Homo sapiens: one gene and its partners. The protein of the gene in region 1 interacts with the protein of each later gene in a pairwise test. Each region holds a gene or a part of one and is shown in the gene's direction. Other genes may lie near its edges.

Evidence for each region. The genes of interacting proteins can lie anywhere in the genome.
Region 2: the proteins of NSMF (region 1) and ARPC5L interact in binary tests that used the Homo sapiens proteins (3 or more experiments, as listed by UniProt).
Region 3: the proteins of NSMF (region 1) and PTPN21 interact in binary tests that used the Homo sapiens proteins (3 or more experiments, as listed by UniProt).
Region 4: the proteins of NSMF (region 1) and UBASH3A interact in binary tests that used the Homo sapiens proteins (3 or more experiments, as listed by UniProt).

What each region holds. Positions count from the first base shown.
Region 1 is NC_000009.12:137,452,835-137,456,334, reverse strand, and holds part of NSMF (NMDA receptor synaptonuclear signaling and neuronal migration factor), read left to right. Parts: intron 1-700; coding exon 701-706; intron 707-1,027; coding exon 1,028-1,096; intron 1,097-1,105; exon of another isoform or gene 1,106-1,248; coding exon of another isoform or gene 1,249-1,589; intron 1,590-1,891; coding exon 1,892-1,944; intron 1,945-2,514; coding exon 2,515-2,604; intron 2,605-3,154; coding exon 3,155-3,279; intron 3,280-3,500. UniProt on the Homo sapiens protein: Couples NMDA-sensitive glutamate receptor signaling to the nucleus and triggers long-lasting changes in the cytoarchitecture of dendrites and spine synapse processes. Part of the cAMP response element-binding protein (CREB) shut-off signaling pathway.
Region 2 is NC_000009.12:124,875,182-124,878,233, forward strand, and holds the end of ARPC5L (actin-related protein 2/3 complex subunit 5-like protein), read left to right. Parts: intron 1-1,696; coding exon 1,697-1,759; 3' UTR 1,760-2,552; downstream 2,553-3,052. UniProt on the Homo sapiens protein: May function as component of the Arp2/3 complex which is involved in regulation of actin polymerization and together with an activating nucleation-promoting factor (NPF) mediates the formation of branched actin networks.
Region 3 is NC_000014.9:88,548,508-88,552,007, reverse strand, and holds part of PTPN21 (tyrosine-protein phosphatase non-receptor type 21), read left to right. Parts: intron 1-455; exon of another isoform or gene 456-772; intron 773-1,388; 5' UTR 1,389-1,590; coding exon 1,591-1,770; intron 1,771-3,500.
Region 4 is NC_000021.9:42,413,902-42,417,401, forward strand, and holds part of UBASH3A (ubiquitin-associated and SH3 domain-containing protein A), read left to right. Parts: exon of another isoform or gene 1-2,407; intron 2,408-2,540; coding exon 2,541-2,710; intron 2,711-3,500. UniProt on the Homo sapiens protein: Interferes with CBL-mediated down-regulation and degradation of receptor-type tyrosine kinases. Promotes accumulation of activated target receptors, such as T-cell receptors, EGFR and PDGFRB, on the cell surface.

The sequences.
Region 1 (3,500 bases):
AGTCTCTGGGCCTACCAGGGGGGCTGCTTCTGAACAGACCCACGTGCCTATGCTGTGCCAGGCCTGCCAGGGAGGCCAGGGCTGACTGCTCTTCCCCTCCCATGGCTGGTGCCCAGCCCCCCCCCCCACACACACACAGTCAGGGGACCTGGCCCAGGGCTGCAGCTGATGAGCTCTCAGTGGGGTGTGGGGTGTGGCAGGTTCTCCTGCTCCTATCCACTCTCCTCAGCCTGTGTCTGCCCTCCCTCAAACCCCAAATAGAAGCCTACTTCTGTTTCATACGTGCCATAGGTCATCACAGTTTCAGGGTCCCCGCAGGGACCTGCTCCTCTCTGTCTTGACATACATTTGGCTTTTCTGTTCTGGGATTCCTTCCAGGGAAGTTCCCTTTGCTGCATTGGTCCCCACACCAAAGAAGTGTCCTGCCCGGGGGAGTCCACCCCACACCCAGCCTCAGGCTGCCTGGTCTCAGCAACCAGTCCTTGTGGCATGGGCTGCAGTGACATCAGCTTCCGTTGCCCATTCAGGGCTGGCCAGCAGTGTAGCCAGCATCCTGCTGGTGGCTGGGTTACCTGTGAGGGACCTATTGGGTCAGTGACAAGAAGGGAACTGTAGGGACCGGGTGGGGGCTGAGGGGAGGCCCGGGGTTGAGCTCACTGTGTCTTCTCTCTCACGCCATCCCTTCTGGCCCTGGCTTCAGCATCTCGTAAGTACCTGTATGACTTGGTGCCTAAGGGCACAGCTGTTGTCCCTGGGGAGACCCTCCCACCCCAAATAGGTTTGGGCAGGCCAGGGACCTGGGTCTTGAGGGAGTGCCGCTCTCTGCGGGCCTGGCTCCCAGCGGGCACCGAGGTCGCAGCAGGGCCTGCTGGGAGCTGGGCCTCGACAGGTGAGGCAGGCTGGGACTCCTCTGCCGGGCCCCGTGCCCCAGACGCCCTGCTGGGCCCTCTGCTCGCACCACTGTCCCGACGTCTGTGTCCCTCCTGCCTCCGGCCAAGGGCAGTGCTGACTCGCGGTGGTTTCCCAGGGTGTTCAGGGGCTACGCGGAGAGGAAGCGCCGGAAACGGGAGAATGATTCCGCGTCTGTAATCCAGAGGTAGGGCCTGCCAGCCACTCGCCACCAGGGTCCATCTCTGGTCTGTGCTGGCCTGGCCTGGGCCCCCTCGGCCCTGGCAGACCTGATGGGGGAAGGGTGGTGGCGACCACTGGCCTGGCCCTGCTCTGGGGACGTGGCAGGCAGGAGAGGCCATGTGGCCCGGGCTGCAGGAAAGCATCTCACCCTCAGTCCTGCACTCCGAGGGCACGTGTCTCTGTCTGGGCTGGGGCCAGCAGCAAGGCCCCCCTCCCCCACTCCAATCACACAGATGTGTCTGGGAAGCTTTTTTGCCCGTTTTGGATGTTGGGCCTTGGCAGGGTCCAAAGTTTGGTGGAGGAGAGGACCTGCCCCTGAGGTGGCTCAAGGACACAGAGCAGGAGAGGGGGCTCCTGCAGGCCCCCAGCCCGCCATGGGGTGGTGCAGACAGGAGCCCCGCTCTGCTGCAGCGCAGGCAGGCTGGATCCTCTGCCACATGGGCGTGGAGGCTCAGGGCGTAAGTCCCGGGCGAGGACGGAAGGTCAGAGCCTGGGAATGCAGCTCGGGAGGAGACTTGATCCAGAGCGCCAGGCACTGCACCTTTGTTCTGGAGTTGAAGGGGAGCCCTGGAAGGCTGTCGCGGGAAGAGCACTGGGTGGGATTTGCCTTTGGGTGGGAGGTGGTGCCAGGAGCCAGGGAGAGCACTGGCTTCCCACACCGAAGGGGTGAGAGTAGAGCCATGACCCGACGGGGGCTAGGTGGGCAGGGGCTGCCGTCACCCTCTCACGGCCCTCTTCAGCCCCTGGCTTCCTCCCCCAGGAACTTCCGCAAACACCTGCGCATGGTCGGCAGCCGGAGGGTGAAGGCCCAGAGTAAGACCCCGTGCGGCGGGGGTGGGGGGGCGGCGTTGCGCTTGGCTGGTTGGGGCTTTGCTTGCTGCTAGCTGCGATAAGAACGACCCCCGCCCCAACCCCAATCGGGCCCTGCCTCAGGCTCCTCCCCTTCCAGCCACTTCCCCAGCCCGGCCCAGGCTCCTCCCCTCCCAGCCACGCCCCCAGCCCGGCCCAGGCTCCTCCCCTCCCAGCCACGCCCCCAGCCCGGCCCAGGCTCCTCCCCTCCCAGCCACGCCCCCAGCCCGGCCCAGGCTCCTCCCCTCCCAGCCACGCCCCCAGCCCGGCCCAGGCTCCTCCCCTCCCAGCCACGCCCCCAGCCCGGCCCAGGCTCCTCCCTTCCCAGACTCCGCCTCTGGCCCTGCCCCAGTGTTCTCAGATCCTGCCCCTGAACCAACCGAGCCTCTGGTCCGTGTCTGCTTCATGTGCCTTAGACCCCACCCACATTAGCTTCCTCCTCTGCCCAGGGCCCCTGTGGTCCCCTCGCCTGGGGTCTGAGACTCCCGAGGCCCCGCCCCACCCGCTCGCTAATGCGGGTTTTGCTCTCTGCAGCGTTCGCTGAGCGGCGCGAGCGGAGCTTCAGCCGGTCCTGGAGCGACCCCACCCCCATGAAAGCCGACACTTCCCACGACTCCCGAGACAGTAGGTGCCCCGCACAGGCCCGCCCACCTTCCCCAGAGCCTCCCCTAGACCCCAGACCCCTGCTGGGGGTCCCCTGCCAGGGCCGCTGGGCTGCGCTTTTGCACTCCTGAATCTTGGTTTACCTGTTTGTGAGATGGGGACGCCCTCAGCATCTCCGATCGCAAAGGCGGGGCTAACAACGGCCGCGGCAGTGCTGGCCGGGGGCGCCTGTAGGGCCGTGCCCACCGCCACTCGCAAGAGGCCCTCAGGGGCAGGGGGCTGCGGTGCCCGCCCCCACTCCCTCCCAGGCGCCCGGCGGACTTGGCTGGAGCTGATGCCTGCACGCGCCTTCCACCGGCCTCGCACCAGGGTCTCCCTTCCCACATCAGGCCGCTGCCCAGTGGTGTCCACAGGCCTGTCCTGCCGGGCTGGCGGCGACCTCTGTATGGTCCTCCCACTTGCTTGGAGGACCCTCCGGGATGGGGCTTTCGGGCCCTGTGGGCCTTGGGGCCATGGCCAGGATAGGAGGTGCTGCCGGGCCTGCTGTCCTGGTGACCCTCTTGCTTCCCAGGCAGTGACCTGCAGAGCTCCCACTGCACGCTGGACGAGGCCTTCGAGGACCTGGACTGGGACACTGAGAAGGGCCTGGAGGCTGTGGCCTGCGACACCGAAGGCTTCGTGCCACCAAAGGTCATGGTGAGGCCCAGCCCGGGCAGTGCTCCTCTACACCCCGAGCAGGACTCCGCCCCAACCCGAGTCCAGCCAGCTCTGCCTGGGACCACGCAGCCTTCTCCAGCTGCCTGGGGGAGGGTGTCTCACAGGGCTATACCCTTGGGCTGCCTGGCAGCCAGAAGGTAGCCTCATGGGGGCTCCCACAGCCCCTTGGCTTTTGGATGGGCCTGGGGCCCCTGAGCAGC
Region 2 (3,052 bases), about 13 Mb from region 1:
GCCACCTGGCTTGCCTTGGGGTTCGATCAGCAGGCCAGATTTTCCAGAACAAACGTAGGACGGTCTGATAGGCGTGTGGGGTCAGAGGACGAGCCCCAACCTGGGACATGTCATCACTTCCCTCTCCCAAGGAAGCTCCTGGTAGGGACCTGCTGTCTGTGGTAATTGCAGTTACTTTTTTGCTTTTTAGCTGCCGATTTATGTCAGGCAAGACAGGGTGCCCTTGGTACAGGACATGTGGGCAGATAACATGGCATAGTAAGGTGGTCAGGGAGTCTAGGTAGGAAGGGGGCCTGCTGGTTGGTTGGGGCTTCATGATACTTGCAGTGGTGGAGGCAGCTGTTGGGGGTTCTTAGAAATAGAGTCCTCCAGCCAGCTCTAAGGGCTTCCTGCCCTGGCCTCAGCCTTAGCAGGCCAGAGTGAGCAGTGGGCAGAAACCTTGACCTCACTTAATATGGCCTTCGTCCAGGTGAAGCAGAAAGAGCTGTGTCTGCCCTTCGCTTGGGTCCGTGTGAGAGCAAGGCCTTTGGCAAGCCTGTGTCGTGCCTGTACCACTGGGGCTGCCTCCCACACCCTCCCCTGCACACCCCTAGTGCCGCAGTAAGCACGCCCACCATTAAAGCAGACCAGGAGTTACTAACCTGCCTGCCTTCCTCAGAGGCTCAGTGTTGAGTTGGAAGAGAGGGGTTTTACAGTGGGCCAGTCCTTAAGGTGGTGTGGGTGCTGGGCTGTGGTTGTGGCCTTAGGTCTGCTGGCGGGTGTGCTGCACCTCCTTGGCCTCCCCTCTCCTGGGCTCAAGGAAGTAAACAAGTCCTCTGTATGATGGGGAGGCCAGGACCTCTCGTCCCTTTAAGGCAGCTTGGTGCCTGCCAGTCACCTCAGCGGGCGGCAGTCAGTGGGCTTGTGTGCATCTGTAAACTCAGCACTTTGGGAGGCTGAGGCAGGAGGATTGCTGGAGCCCAGGAGTTCAAGAACAGCCCAGGCAATGTAGTGAGAACCCATCTCTACAAAAAAATAAACTAGGCTGGGTGCGGTGGGCTCACGCCTGTAATCCCAGCATTTTGGGAGACGGAGGCAGGCGGATGACCTGAGGTCAGGAGCTCAAGACCAGCCTGGGCAACATGGTGAAACCCCGTCTCTACTAAAAATACAAAAATTAGCCGGGGGTGGTGGCGGGCGCCTGTAATCCCAGCTGCTCGGGAGGCTGAGGCAGGAGAAGCGCTTGAACTGGGGAGGCAGGGTTGCAGTGAGCCGAGATCGTGCCATTGCACTCCAGCCTGGGTGACAAGAGCGAAACTCCGTCTCAAAAAAAATAAATTAGCCGGGCCTGGTGGTGCACACCTGTGGTCCCAGCTACTCAGGAGGATGGCTTCAACCCAGGACATCAAGGCTGTGCAGTGAGCTGTGATCTGGGCAACAGAGTGAGACCCCATCTCAAAAGGGAAGCTCGAGGGCTCTGCTTTGTGTGCTGGTGACAGTGTTCTCAAGCCAGTTCTGCCCAAGAGCCAACAGCTCTCGGGACCCCACGGCTCCAGGACAGGGCTCCTTCCCTAGAATGTGCTCTATCTCAGGAATCCTCTTTCGAGGATCTGTGACGGGATCTAGGTCAGGGAATGTCCCCCCTGTCTCTGGCAAGCCAGGCTCCCCTTGGCCAGCCAGGTCTCATCTGACACGTTTTCTTTTCCTGCCCCCACAGGCCTTAGCAGTAGGAGGACTAGGCTCCATTATAAGAGTTCTTACAGCAAGAAAGACTGTTTAAAAAAAATAAAAAGACTCATGTTACCTTGAGAAGAATTCTGGATGCCCAGGCTGGTGAAGAAGGGATTGACAATGGACCATCTTCCTAGGAACTCCCAAGTAAACTATTTCAGGACATGTATCTGCTGAAATGTATTTTATTTTCAAGGTGGAGGGGAAAATCGTCTGTTTCCTAAATCCTGTTTAGGATCTGATAGTCTATGCCTTTGTCTCCGAGTACTGCAGAACTGACATTTTGACGGTCTACCAGCGTGGCGGCTGGTGTTGGTCAGATGCACCTGTGTGCACTGGGGGAGGGATGGTTTGGGCAGGTGCAGATCCAAGGGCTGTGGTAAACGGGAGAGCTTGTGTTTTTGAAGTGGAAAAAAACCCAAGAGTTTGTACAGACATCCTGTCTTCCCAGAGAAGGTGGACACTCTTGGGCTCATTGTAAAGTGCCTGCTGCATCAATAAAGCTCTTGGCTTATTAGTCTATACATTGCGGTGTGTTTCGTGTATGTAAAAAAAAATGGTAATGAATGGGATGGTAATGAATGAGAGTTCAGTTGTTGTTCCGGAAACCCGATGTGGAAGGAGTAGACCTGTGTCCCTGTTGAGCCACCCCTGGGAGCGAGCATGGCAATCCACAGGCCCTCTGCCACAGGACGCCAGCCTCGGCCTCAGAGCTGCCGGCTGCTGCAGAGAGGTGTTTGCTGAATAAACTATTTATTGTTTCTTATTCCTTTGATTTGTATGTAATTAATTTTGGAGCTTATTTAATTAATTTAATAAAGTGCCAAACATTTAATAATTGATCTAGGCTTTAAAAGTCTTCAGTTTGTGGGATTGCACTTGGAATCTTTTGAGGGTGGGGCCTCAGATGTGCCTGGTCACGTCTCCTGATGCTGGGTTGGCTGTGCTGCAGAATCACTGCTGCATGGACAAGCTTTCTTTAAAGAACTAAACGTCAGAAATGGGGAGCAATCAATCAGCAAATAGATGGTATAATTTGGTTCCCCATAACCAATAACAGAGCTTCTCTGAAGGGCAAAAATGCTTTTCTTTCCTTTTCAGCACATGTGACTGCAGCTTGCATTCTGTTAAAGGTTAGGGCCCCATTCACACTCCAGAAGCTCCTCTGGGTCATACAGCCTTTGGATACAGACTTTGACCAAAGTGACACAGTCCTCCCCTCCACAGCTCTCCCCTCCTCAGTCCCTCTTCAGAACCACTGCAATTCTTGGGGGGGGTAGAATGGGGCTGTTGGCTTCATTAAATTACGTATATTTATTCACCCAAATCCAGTCTGGGAAGG
Region 3 (3,500 bases), on another chromosome or scaffold:
AGGCAATCTCTGCGCAGAAGGAAGGTAGGGAACCGTCTCAGGACCCTGGAAATGTCCGGGATTTTGTAGACTCGTTTAGGGGGAAAAAACTAATCCAGCTGATATAAAAATCCCCAGCTAGTGCTCGCCCCAGAAACCATCAACAGGTCTGGTTAAAAACTGTTAGAGCCCGGCTTGGTGGCGCGCACCTGTGGTCCCAGCTACTCGGGAGGTTGAGGCGGGAGGATCGCTTGAGCCCAGGTGTTCGAGGCTGCGGTGAGCTACGATGGCGCCACTGCACTCCAGCCTGGGTGGCATAGCGAGACTTCGCTCTATAAAACACGTTGTAAGGAGCGTATTTTGAGGTCCTGTGGCTCCAAAGCGGGCATCCTATGGGGCCCGCCCAACCTCTCCACCGCCAGTAGGGCACGCGCTGGTCCCTTTAAATGTTCCCTTCGGGAGCCGAGGGACCGGTCCTTTTAGAGCGCGTCCGTCCAGAAACGCGGCTGCAGAAAGAGGGTTCCGGGGCCTCCGAGTCTACTGGTTGGCCTGGCAACGCCGCGTGCTCTTCCCAAGGGGAGGACGCGGGAGAAGCCGGGGCCTGAGTGCTCCAAGGCCCCGTGGGCTTCTTGGGTTTGTTGCCTCCGGCCGCTCATTAACTCAGGATGGCGTGGAAGACCTCGCCCGCCTCCCCTTCTGGGCCGCGGCTCCGCTTAGGTGAAGGCCTGTTTGGGCGTCCCCACCCTGGAGAGGGGCCGGGGTCTGGATTTTCAGAACTGCCACTCTTCTAGTGGTAAATGGATAACGAGCATTTGTAGGGTCTTTTATGATGTTTATCAGTAAATCAATTTGATGACGTAAATACTTCCACAAGCGCTTGTTAGGCACCTCACCGGGTTTGAATCACACACCTGCCTTTCTTAGTGGGGATTATTCCTCCCATTTGCCTTCAGGGTTAATTTTCTAAAGGGATTGGGACTGAAACCTAGCTCTTTTGGGGCCATTTGGCACTTTTCTCACTTAAGGACTAAAGAACTCTGACATTTGGAGTATTACAACCTGAAAGAGTTACCTATGAAAAAACAACACCTTATCCAAAATAGGAAGAGGATCACAATTACTAACTACAAAATTTGGGATTATAGTAGTGCTGGCTATTATCTCATTTAATCCTGAGGATGGCCCAGTTTGCTATCCCTATTTGTAGGATACAGTGAAGGGTGGAGTCTGACCCTGAGCCTAGCACAACTCTGAGATAAAATTCCACCCTGCCTTCCGGGTCCTGTTAGTGCCTTTTTTCCAGTGGAGAGGGACGGCTTGTTCTTTGGCCACAGCTTGACTGGCTTTTCTTTATACAAGCAAAGCCCAGCGTTACGTTTGCTTAACTAACGGCGTTCCTCTTTCCCCAGCGCTGGCGTCAATGCTCCCTTCCTCGGGCCATTGGAGACTCCGTTGCTTTTTAATGGCGGCAGCGGCTGCTGGGTGAGCAGCTGGAGGCCGGACAGTGTTCGTCCCATCCGGAGAGGATCGCTTTCTCCTGGCGTCACCAGCGCTGGGTTGGTGGGGGTAGCTTTTCCCTCTTTGCTCCTCCATTCTTGAAGAAAGAAGAAGATGCCACTGCCATTTGGGTTGAAACTGAAACGCACCCGGCGCTACACGGTGTCCAGCAAGAGTTGCCTGGTTGCCCGGATCCAACTGCTTAATAACGAGTTTGTGGAGTTCACCCTGTCCGTGGAGAGCACTGGCCAGGAAAGCCTCGAGGCCGTGGCCCAGAGGCTGGAGCTGCGGGAGGTAAGCCACCTAAAGACACTGCAGGCCAGGCGCGGGTGGCTCAAGCCTGTAATCCCAGCACTTTGAGAGGCCGAGGCTGGTGGATCACCTGAGGTCAGGAGTTCGAGCCTAGCCTGGCCAACATGGTGAAACCCTGTCTCTACTAAAAATACAAGGCCGGGCGCAGTGGCTCACACCTGTAATCCCAGCACTTTGGGAGGCCGAGGCGGGCGAATCACAAGGTCAGGAGTTCGAGACCAGCCTGGCCAATATGGTGAAACCCCATGTCTACTAAAAATACAAAAATTAGCCGGACGTGGTGGTGGGCGCCTGTAGGGTGTGGTGGCGGGCACCTGTCATCCTACCTACTCGGGAGGCTGAGACAGGAGAATCGCTTGAATGTGGGAGGCAGAGGCTGCAGTGAGCCGAGATCGCTCCACTGCACTCCAGCCTGGGCTACAGAGCGAGACACCTGCTCAAAAAAAAAAAAAAATTGGCTGGGCGTGGTGGTGGGTGCCTGTAATCGCAGCTACTGGGGAGGCTGAGGCAGGAGAATCACTTGTACCCAGGAGGTGGAGGTTGCAGTGAGCTGAGATCACAGCACTGCACTCCAGCCTGGGCAACAAACTCTGTCTCAAAAAAAATTAAAAATAAATAAAAAAAACACGACAGGCTTCTCTGGCCCGCATGCTGGCTGTGTGTTCTAGCCCACGGGCCACTCACTGTGTGTCCCTGGCTGGGATGTCTGAGTTGAGCCTGTAGTCCCCTCCTCATGAAGCAGGAATAGATTAGATTAAGAAGTCTCCCCTTGGGGTGCCCTATAAGAACTAATGGTTCTTATTTTGAATATGTTTATATTCCCCCTCTAAGGTAATCCAGAATCAAATGTGAATACACTTTGGGTTGTTCAAATTTCCATTTTCTAATATACCCCCAAAGGTCATCCTGATCTCTAGTACAGTTTACTGACTTCATTCTTTCTTTTTTGTTCATTTTAATTTTTTTAGAGTCAAGGTAGGTCTAGCTATGTTGCCCAGGTTGGTCTCAAATTCCTAGGCTCAAGCGATCCTCCCGCGATAGGCATGTGCCACCATGTCCGGCTCTTGACTTCGTTCTTTCAACATTCATTGAGTAAAATTCATTGACTATATTCTTACAGGCCAGATCGAGGTTCTAGAAACATACTGCCTGAACTCAGTTTGAGTTCTAGTTTCCTCACCATCTGCTTCTGTTACCTTGGGCAAGTTATGTGATATCTCTGAGCCCCAGTTCTCCATCTGAACCATGGGGATGACTGTGACACCTAATTCTCAGAGTAGCATAAGGTTGTAAGCTCTGCTAACTAGTCTATTAGAGTACCGATTGGGAGGTTTGCCCAGGAAACCCCTAATCTAGTTGGTAGGAAGTTATGGAGTACTCATGTATCCATATAATGTCTTAAATTTAAAATGTTATGCAAGGCCTGTGAAGAAAGGTCTCTAATTAAACCTAGGACCCTCCCTACCTTTGGCTACCTGGTTCTTGGGTAAGGGAAAGTTAGAGAAACTGGTTATTCCACCTAAAAAGTCAGGAATAGATGAACTTTGCTCCTGGTGACCATCCAATCACTTATATGATCACTCAGTACTGAAGATGCGTAAGTGCCAAGCACATACATACTTGGAAGCTCACCCTAGTGTTGTTGCCAGTAAGAAAACAGGCATGATGCATGCTGTGATAAGGGAAGTAGAGGGTGTGCTATAGGCCAGAGG
Region 4 (3,500 bases), on another chromosome or scaffold:
TACCATTGGGGTTTAGTGGAAAGGATTGTGGACTTGACGTCAGAAGATGTGATTTTTTTCTGTGTCCCTGATGAGTGGCATGACCTTAATCAAGTCATGTCCACTCTCTCTGTCTCTTTTTCTTTCTCTACAAAACAATGAGGGCTCTCACTCTTCAAGAACAATGTTGCCTGAGTCTGTGGCCCATCCTGCCATAGTTCCCGGGACACAGAAGGCACTCAGTATTGCTGAGATTTGCCGACTCTAAAATCTGACGAGGCCGCAGTGCCTTGGTGGGAGGGCTCCCCACTTTCTCTCTCTGGGAGCGTGTCTGTCTGTGCTCAGACATGTATGAAGCACAGATCCTGGCCTGTAAATCCATCCCTGAATCCTGGGCTTCCACTTGGATGGCAGCTTGTGAGTCTGGAGATCGAATCTGCTGAATAATTAGAAAGTCGCCCCCGGTCTTTGTGGATTAGTATCCTTTATCAAATGATGGCTCTTTCACACCCAGGCCCTCCCCCAGTGAACCTCATTGGCAGCATCTTAAAAACAGGAAGACTGAGGCTGCAAAGGGTGAAGGGCCTGCCCAAGGTCCTGTGGTGTGTAGAGCGGTGTCCCCTAAAAATGTTTGTCCACCAGGAACTTGGGAATGTGACCTCACTTGGGAATAGGGCCTGTGCAGATGCGATTGGTTGGGAGGAGGTCACACTGCATTAGGGTGGGTTCCCGTAAGGGTAGAGGCCGCACAGAGACACAGAGAAGCCATGTGCCGACTGAGGCAGAGACTGGAGTGATGTAGCCACAAGCCAAGGGACGCCTGGGGCCACCGGAAACTGGAAGAAGCCAGGAAGGACCCTTCCCAGGAGCTTTCGGGGAGAGCACAGCCCTGCCAACACCTTGATTTTGAACCTCTAGTCTCCAGAAATGGGAGGCAATACATTTCTGTTGTTTGAAACCAATCTAGTCCCCTAACCAGGCTGGCGGAGCAGGGACCTGAACCCACCTCTGTCCTGCTCCATGCTGCCTGGGTTCATGCTGGGCAGCCCCACTTCCTGTGGGAGCCAGCGTTGACCTCACATCTACGCCCCGACCCTAAGCAGGCTGTGTCCTGCCCTTCCATGGCCCATGCTCTCAGCCTGACACCGAGGGGGTGGAGGGGACTCTCTCAGTGATGAGTGACCAGTCACTGCTCTGAAGTGGCCGAGGTCCCTCTTGGGGCAAATGCATGAGGCCCCCTTGCCCGCGTTGGTCCTCCCCAGTGAAACGTGCCCATAGGCACAGGTCCGCAGAGAGAAGGAAACGCAAGGACCCGTTCAGAAGTCGGTGTGACTCACTCTGACGTCAGCAACCTGCAGTGGGTCTTTCCCAGGCCACACTCACTCGCATGGCAAGGCGGTCCTCCCCGACTGCTAAAAACAAAAGTCAGGAAAGGAATTTCCCCACCACCTACACACTCATGCTGCTCCCCACCACCTACACACTCATGCTGCTCTGGGCTGTGCAGCCTCAGTGCCCCAGCTTTCCTAGAGACCGTGGGAGCTTCCCATTTGCCTCTAAAGGCTCACCTCTCACGTGGGAGACAGCAGTGAGCCCCAACTTCGGGGCTCCAGGGAAAGGCTTGCATCAACCTTGACCTTTTTTAGGGGGTGAGCAGATCCTGTTTGTAAGTGCCCTGCCGTGGAGTGGGGGCAGGGTACGTCTGTGCACCGACACGGCGTCTCTAGCAGGAAACTTTAGGTTAGGAGGCTGATTTCCCACTGCAGCCTTGGCGAGCAGGCGCTGCCGTCCTCCAGCAGATGCTGCTGAAGCAGAAATTGGGCAGGCCCAGAGGCTCAGTCAAGGTCACCCTGCAAAAGGGGGCAAAGTGCAGCCTAAAACTAGGTCTATCTGACACCAAAGTTTGTGTTGTTCCCGTCAAGACACAGACCGCCTCCCTAGGACATAAAATACTTTGTGGCTCAACTGAAATCAGATCCTGGCTGCTTTGGTGATGCCAGCTGCTCTGCTCAGACTGACCTGAGAGCCCCTGGCAGGACCAGGGAGGGCTAGGGCCACAGGGGCAGAGGACACCCAAAAAGACCTGAGGCTCAACCACTCCCAGGACTTCCTGCTTCACCAAAACAAGGTGAACCTTAAAGACACTGTGTGTTTTATAGTTTTGTTGCCTAAAGAGTTTTCTTCTTGAAACTCTACGATTAAACAAAAAGCCGTTGAACTGGAGCTCGGGCCTGCAAGTCCAGGCCACTGGGTAACGTGCACACCCCGGGGAATGGAGGAGCCGTTTACTCTGTGCATCTGAATCGTGCATTCGGGCAGCTAGCCTGCAAACCGATAGGCCCCCGAGACCCTGAACCCACATCTCCATATCGTCCTCTTTCCTACTTCCTGGAAAAATCTACAGGGATCCAGCCATCTCCTTTATGATGTGAGTTCTGAGCGGGCCAAATGAGCTCTGAGTTCTGAGAGCCCTTGCCTTGTGGAGGAAGCATGGAGGTCGGAGGAAGGAGACATTTAGGTAACGGTGTCCTGGCACCCTCTGTGTTTCCCTGATTTCACAGACTGCTCCGTGAAGCCTTGCACCAAACAGCTGCATCTGACCTTGGCCCACAAGTTCTACCCCCACCACCAGAGGACGCTGGAGCAGCTGGCCAGAGCCATCCCCCTGGGCCACAGCTGCCAGTGGACCGCAGCACTCTACTCCCGAGACATGCGCTTTGTGCACTACCAGGTGAGAGAGCTGAGCAGGGGCTCATAAGAAGCAGATGAATGGGCTGGGCTCGGTGGCTCACGCCTGTAATCCCAGCACTTTGGGAGGCCGAGGCGGCGGATCATGAGGTCAGGAGATGGAGACCATCCTGGCTAACATGGTGAAACCTCGTCTCTACTAAAAATACAAAAAATTAGCCAGGCACGGCGGCGGGCACCTGTAGTCCCAGCTACTCAGGAGGCTGAGGCAGGAGAATGGAGTGAACCCGGGAGGCGGAGCTTGCAGCGAGTGGAGGTAGCATCACTGCACTCCAGCCTGGGCTACAGAGCGAGACGTCTCAAAAAAAGAAGCAGATGAGTGAACGGCCACTCACCTGACAGCATGTACCCCCTGGAGCCCTCCAAGGGAGATATGTTAGTAGCAAGGAAAATTTCTATTGCTTCTCTAAAGCCATTCTCTTTCTTGTGCAATTTACAACCAGCATTCTTTTATATGTGAGTTAGAGATGCACAGACAACAAAATAGAAGCATTTCCAATATTAGAAAAGGAAGCTGGGTGTGGTGGCTCACACCTATAATCCCAGCACTTTGGGAGGCTGAGGCAGGTGGATCACTTCAGGTCAGGTGTTCGAGACCAGCCTGGGCAACAGGGCAAAACGCTGTCTCTACTAAAAATACAGAAAATTAGCCGGGCGTGATGGCACGAACCTGTAATCCCAGCTACTCGGGAGGCTGAGGCAGAAGAATCACTTGAACCTGGGAGGTGGAGGTTGCAGTGAGCAGAGATCGTACCGTTGCACTCCAGCCTGGG